Regions from separate parts of the Homo sapiens genome. Here region 2 is reported to be linked to region 1. The links are microRNA targets in miRTarBase. Many come from high-throughput screens and were not tested one by one. Region 1 holds a microRNA gene; the other region holds the end of a gene's coding sequence.

Region 1 (3,414 bases):
TCCCCCCAAATCCATGTCCACCCAGAACCTACGAATGGGGCCTTAACTGGAAATGGGTCATTGCCTCCTTGCAGATGTGATCAGTGAGGTTGCGACGAGGTAATACTGGATTAGGGAGGGTCCTAAATCCAATAATTAGTGTCCTTATAAAGAGAGTGTGGCCCAGGGCACTATGGAAGAGGTTTGAGGATGAGCACAGCAGCAGAATCTGAGTGCTGGAGGCTCACCCAGGCAGAGTGTGCTCCACTTCGTTCCAGGGGACTGAGAGAAATGAACCCGGGGTGAGACCCAGAGCCGTCCCCTCCTGCAGTCCATCTGGGCCAAAATGAGAGCCCAACCAGTGGGGAGGGAGGGGCAGATTCAGGAAATAGAAAAAGTGGAAGGGGCTGGTTCTGGACAGATGGGAAAAGGGCAGGTGAGCGCCAGGAAAGATCTAGGAAGGTTTTTGGGTTTTCAGTTCCTGGGCCATAACTGAGATGGGGTGCCCAGGAGGAAGGGCCAGCTGGCCAGGAAAGATGGGGTATGTTCACTGGAGCTCCTGTAACCACAGCCTGGGTGACTGAAACCACAGGGATGAATTGTCTCATGGTTCTGGAGGTTGGAAGTCTGAGGTCAAGGTGTTGGCAGTGGGGGGGTTCACACTGGGGACTGCAGGGAGACTCTGTTCCAGGCCTGTCTCTCCAGCTCCCAGTGGCCTGTAGGCAATCTTTGGCATTCCTTGACTGACAGAAGCATCACCCAGAGCTCTGCCTTCATCTTTGTGTGAGGTTTGCTCCGAGTGCATGGCTGTGGCCACATTTCATTCATTCATTCATTCATTTATTTATTTGAGATGGAGTCTTGCTGTGTCGCCCAGGCTGGAGTGCAGTGGCACGATCTCGGCTCACTGCAGCCTCCGCCCACACAGATTCAAGTGATTCTCCTGCCTCAGCCACCCAAGTAGCTGGGACTACAGGCACCCGCCACCACGCCCGGCTAATCTTTGTATTTTTAGTAGAGACGGGGTTTCACCATGTTGGCCAGGCTGGTCTCGAACTCCTGACTTCAGGTGATCCATCCGCCTCAGCCTCCCAAAGTGCTGGGATTATAAGCATGAGCCACTGCACCCGGTCCCATTTCCTCTTTTTATAAGAATATCAGTCCTACTGGATTAGGGCCCAATCTAATGACCTCATTTTCAGCTGATGACTTCTGTAAAGACCCTACCTCTAAACAAGGTCACACTCTGAGATCCTCAGGGTGATACTTCAACATATGCATTTGCAGGGACACACTTCAAAGGGGAGTCAGGGGTCTGGGCTCGCCTGGTGGCAGGCTCTGCAGGAGATGAGTCTGAGGGTCCAAGAGGAGGTCCAGGGAGCGCTCTGCAAGCCACCAGCCCCGAAGATCACTGGCACCATAGGAGCAGGGCAGGATGGGCGGGGGTGGGGAGCAGAGAGCAGAGCAAGGGCAACCACAGAACCTGGGGCCACACCACCTTCTGAGATGAGCCACATAGCCTGGCACTGAGCCTCCTTCACGTGCTGAGGCCACATCTGTGTGCCATGGAGCCTGTGAGCCCCTGGAGGGAGAGGCTGTGCCTGGGACCCTGCGGATTCCCCAACACATTTGCTGAACAAGCAGGGCAGGGAGAGAAAGGAAAGTGAGGTCGAGACAAATATTATAAATATGACCATATCCCTGATGGAGAAGAAAGTCAAGAAAGAGTTCATGTTGAAAGGCAACACGGGCCAGACACACCTGGTACTCAGGGGCCCTGCAGGGTTTTACAGCAAACTGTGGCCACATGGGGGCTGGGAGGGGACAGCCAGGAAAGAGGCACAGTCCCCATCTGAATTTGACTGAGAGACTCTTTGAAGCCGTCTGAGATTTCCATATACGATTTCTATTAATATTTAAGGCAAGACGCATCCCATCCTCCATAACAACACCGTCTTGAAAGAAGCCTTTGAACTACTTGAAAGGTAAACCCAGCATTATTCTTGGATTAAGAACTCTTGTTCATTCAACAAATACAGCCCCACGACGACATCCCTGAACACCAGAGCCAGAGGTGCCTTGGCATGTGCACGCTGCCTGCTTCTGCAGCAGTAGGATGATGCGTGTGTGGCCTGTTACGTCACACCGCCAGTGGGTCTGGGCAGTGTCCCATTGCCAATTGCGGGAGGAGTCCTTCAGGGCACGGATGAATAATCATGCTAAGTAGGATAAATAAAAACTATAAATAGCCTCAAATCAGTTCAGGTCAAGTACTACTGCCAACGAGCTACGGAGAAGGCATTCGCTTTTCAGATCTTTTTGCAGATCCACATTGAAGGTAGGGAACTCTGTCTTTACTCCTGAGAGCTCGTGTTGGAAGGTACTCATGAGTGAAGACAGAGTTCCCTACCTTCAAGTTTACAGAGGAGACGGGGTGCACAGTGGAAAGGAGGGGAAAAAAACCCCACACGCATGAAGAGGAAAGACAAGTAGGATGCAGGCTTGGAGGTGGAGGCTCGGCGGGACGGGGAGAAAAAAGGACAAGACCCTTCCCTAGAAGCGCTTGGTGGACACAGTGGGTGCAAACGACCAAGTGGCTGGATGGAGGGAAGAGAGACCCTCAGATGGAGGGAATAGGGGGCCCCCATACAGAGGGGCCCCCCACAGACCAGAGTCAGGGGCACACAGGTCCGTGAGCTACGTGGAATGAGAGATGGGTCCCTGGACCACATTACTTCCGGCTCCCTGGTGTATCTCCTCCACGTTCTGGCCACCTGCGGGTCCCTGTTTTCCTCCACACTGACCACTTGAAAACTGATGGGTGGCAATTTTCACCCCTCATTGTCCTAAGGGTCGTGGGGGCTGCTTTGCTTGGTGCTGGAGTCTGGGGCCACAGTGGAACATGGCATTGATTGCTAAGAGGAAGGGACCCCACGATGCCCTGTAGAGCCCAGCTCCTCGGGGCAGGAGGAGCACATATCCACTGTCTGCCCTCTCCCCACACTCATGACCTCCACCTCCCCCAGCCCCAAACATTACAAAAGCTAAAGACATCCTGGGCACCTGTGAGAAAGGAAGAGCGGAGGTAGTTCCCACGTCCATCCTGGTGCCTCTGCCTCCCGGGTGGCGACCCTCAGGAAGGTGAAACCTGCAGCTTGGGCCCTGCAGTTTATAGAATGATATGTTTGTGGTTCCCTAAAACAAAGAGCCGTTGCCACAGCAACCGTGGCATCCCAGCACTCAGAGGCTATTCTCAGACACTAAACAATGAGTTTTGCCTTTCAAATGCATTTGATACAATTTGCTTGGAAGGCATTAACATCCTCTGACAAAACCCATGAGGAAGAGGAGGGCAGGTGAGAGCTGACAAGGTCGAGACTTGCAGGGCTTCCAGGAATCACACCCATTCATGAGACAGGAGGGCCCAACGGCCCC
Region 2 (3,414 bases), not on the chromosome of region 1:
CCAAAGTAATTGATTCAACAATACTAACAGTTCTAGCATGCAACAAACCATCTACTATCTAATGTTTAATCTTCTTAACATGTATATTTTCATTCCTATAAAGTTTCCATAAGAAGCTTGCAATGACAATAAAGGTAAATAAGTACAGTTGTCCCTTGGTATCCATGGGGTATTGGTTCCTGGACCGTCCCCCCAACCCACAGATACCAAAAATCCAAGTATACTCAAGTCCCTTACATAAAATGACATATTTGTATATAACCAACGCACATCCGCCTGTATACTTTATCCCTAGACTAATACCTAATGCAATGTAAATGCTATTTAAATAACTGTTATACTGTATTTTTATTTGTATTATTTTTATTTTTTCTAATATTTTTGATCTGCAATTGGTTTAATCCACAGATGCAGAGTACATGGATACAGAGGGCCAACTGTTTTGTTACAGGTACTTCAAATAGCACTACAGTACATCTTTGACAAAATTTTTACAATATTCCACCTTTCAATATGAAACAGCTTAAAAAGGCATGGGTCAAAAATAAAGTATAGTAGTATCACTTACGCAAATAAAGTCTCAGAATCATACAAGCACAACACTGTTAGGACTCTCCCTGTTTAGGCTGGGAAAAACATTATACAAAACATTTTCTTCAAATAAAATTACATAAATTGCTTAGAAAAATGCCAAAATCAATAATTTCAAACATATTAAGGAGAAAACCTTGAACATTATTGGAAAATATAAACTAGTTATTCCTTGCTTTTAACAGATGAGTTCTTGACAAGTTTTGTGTAAAGCAAATTCTGTAAACCATTATCTTGCTTGCACTGGAGGAACATATCTCAAGGAAACCTAAGAGAAAGTGTTCTTTAAAGCATGTGATTCTCCTGTTTTTGCTGGATGTCTGTATCTACATAATAAACAGGCACACTTCTACATCACTGGGTATTTTACTCAGACTGTCATGTTTCATCTCTGTAAATTAAACCCAAGTTACTTAAAAATCACCTGTGGTAAAAGAAGCAAGCAGATCACCCCCACCTACTATCCCTCCCGCCTCCCCCCTGTCAAAAGAAAGTTCTCAGTTTATGATGCAAAACTTACAATTGTTCATTTATCCACATTCTCAATAGAGGATTTTCCACTATATTTAAGTATGGCAGGATAATTACCCACCTGTTCCTCTTTTCAGCTTAGAAACATAACGGTTCATTCCTTTTATTGCTAGAGAATGTCATTCCTGAAGATTTTATAAACAAAGGCAAATATGAAGGAAAATTTGTAATTATGAAATAAGTCCTTTGTAGTAAAGAATATTTCCCAAATCATAACAGTTCTATTTGGAATGATACCCACAACTCTACAAGCATCTTATCCCTCTACAGGAATGACTACCTTATTAATTAAAATAAAAATTTAACAAGCATCAAAATAAAATTCTTTAGCAATAGACTCCTGCAAAAATAAAAACTAAAACTAGACCTAGTCATTGCCATTTGATCAAACTTAGAACAGGCTTAAATAACAGAACCACTCCATTAAAGAGGCATAGAAAGAAAAGTTTACTAAAATAAATGTAAAAGTCTTATGGAGATGAAGATCTCTAGAATAGTCTTAAGTCTATGACTACTGCTATCATTAATGAGCAAATAAATGACTTGAAATTATTCCTCTGAAAAGGTAAAACTCATACGTATTATGAAAAAGACTATGGCACTTAGAAAATATTCCTGGTAAGTAAACATGGTAAATATAGGTACATCCTAGCCTCTCGCCTACTTTTAAATTATTTTGAGAAAGATAGCACTAGCTGGGAGAAAAAAAAAATCCTTATCACCTGAAGGTGAAATTACCACATAGTCCTAAAAATAAATAGCTTTGAAAAGACCGTCGGGTGCGGTGGCTCATGCCTGTAATCCCAGCACTTTGGGAGGCCGATGCGGGTGAGTCACAAGGTCAAGAGATCGAGACCATCCTGGCCAACTTGGTGAACCCCCGTCTCTACTAAAAATACAAAAATTAGCCAGGCGTGATGGCAGGCACCTGTAATCCCAGCTACTCAGGAGGCTGAGGCAGGAGAATCGCTGGAATCTGGGATGCGGAGGTTGCAGTGAGCCTAGATGGCGCCACTGCACTCTAGCCTGGCGAAAGAGTGAGACTCCATCTCAAAAAAAAAGACCAATGAAAATAATACTATAATTGTCTCATCCATTTTCACCTTTAGTGTCTCTGTAGTTTTTTTAACTTACAAAAAAAAAAAAAAAATTACCAATGCAATTTGAGTCACATGTGGACAAAATTATGCTTTCATATGAAATGTAAAATAAATCAAATATAACAGGGCTATGTGCTGCAGCTAAAAGCCAAGTTTTGCCTCTCAGTCTTTTGAGTATATCTAAAAAGAGATGGCATGTCTTAAGGAATAATTCCTTTAAAAAATGAATGAGGCTAAATTATTTGTACAGCCATCATGGATTTATATTTTTCAATACAGCCAAAGTATATGTTTACAATATTAAAATGCCTACTTTATAGCATCAAATCATGTTCTTGCCTCTAAAATTAACTTGGCTGTTTCTAAAACATTGTATTAATTTTCTATGTATTCTACCTCCTTACTATGCAGGACAAGCAAATGCCTGTGAAACCATTCAGTTTAATGCAGGCCTTTCAATAAAAATGCATTTTAAATAATACAGGCTTTAAAAATAAGATCACCAGAGACCACAATTGTTAGTGGTTGCGACAATTTACATAACCGAATCTAAGGCAACCACTTTCCCTTGTGGTCGTTCTTTAAAGTGAGTAAGCTGATGTCTCTTCCAGTGAGGAGCCTGTCTGAATGTTTTGCCACAAACTGAGCATTCAAATGGTTTCTGCCCTGCATGAATTAGGTAGTGTCTTTCCAGTTTAGATGGAGATCGGAAACTTTTAGCACAAACACTGCATCGGTACAGGAAGACATCATTTTTCTCCTGATGCTCTGAATAACTGCAAAAAGGATTGCTTTGCTCTGATTCCAAAAGTACATTAGGAAGACAGGGTTGCCCGGTGCTACCAGGAATAAAATCCTGTGACTCTGCCTTAACTCCTGACATTTGATCTGACTCTGAGACCTCGTATTTTTGAACACCAGGAGCCTGACATTGTTGGGAAGCATTATAGTTAACATTATTACCTGAATGATTAGAAAGATTGTTGAAGTTTCCAAATTCTACTTGGCAAAGAGATGCATAAGGACTCTTTTCATTATGAGTCTGTTCATGTCTTTTTAAGTGAGCTGACTGTCTAAAAGATTTCCCACAAATATTACAGCCAAAGGGCCTCTGTCCAGTATGAATTAAATAGTGTCTTTTTAGTTTGGATATAGAAGGAAATACCTTCTCACATTTGTCACAAGGACATAT

Evidence for each region. The annotated mature microRNA hsa-miR-3664-3p reads UCUCAGGAGUAAAGACAGAGUU and lies in region 1 at 2,324-2,345, opposite strand. An mRNA with a match to its seed (bases 2 to 7 or 8) in the 3' UTR can be bound and repressed. Matches are read on the target gene's strand: a 7mer-m8 pairs with bases 2 to 8, a 7mer-A1 pairs with bases 2 to 7 and ends in A, and an 8mer does both.
Region 2: the mRNA of ZNF770 is a reported target of hsa-miR-3664-3p. Seed matches in the 3' UTR shown: 7mer-m8 at 2,066-2,072.

The regions. Positions count from the first base shown.
Region 1 is chr11:70,869,966-70,873,379 of GRCh38, forward strand. MIR3664 (microRNA 3664) reads right to left here and starts at 2,403; the gene lies at 2,305-2,403. All of the region lies in intron 11 of SHANK2 (SH3 and multiple ankyrin repeat domains 2), which reads right to left.
Region 2 is chr15:34,978,602-34,982,015 of GRCh38, forward strand. It overlaps ZNF770 (zinc finger protein 770), which reads right to left. Exons shown (of 3, transcript NM_014106.4): 3 at 1-3,414. The coding sequence ends at 2,758. Among named protein-coding and RNA genes, the nearest start is that of ZNF770, 8.0 kb to the right of the region's middle.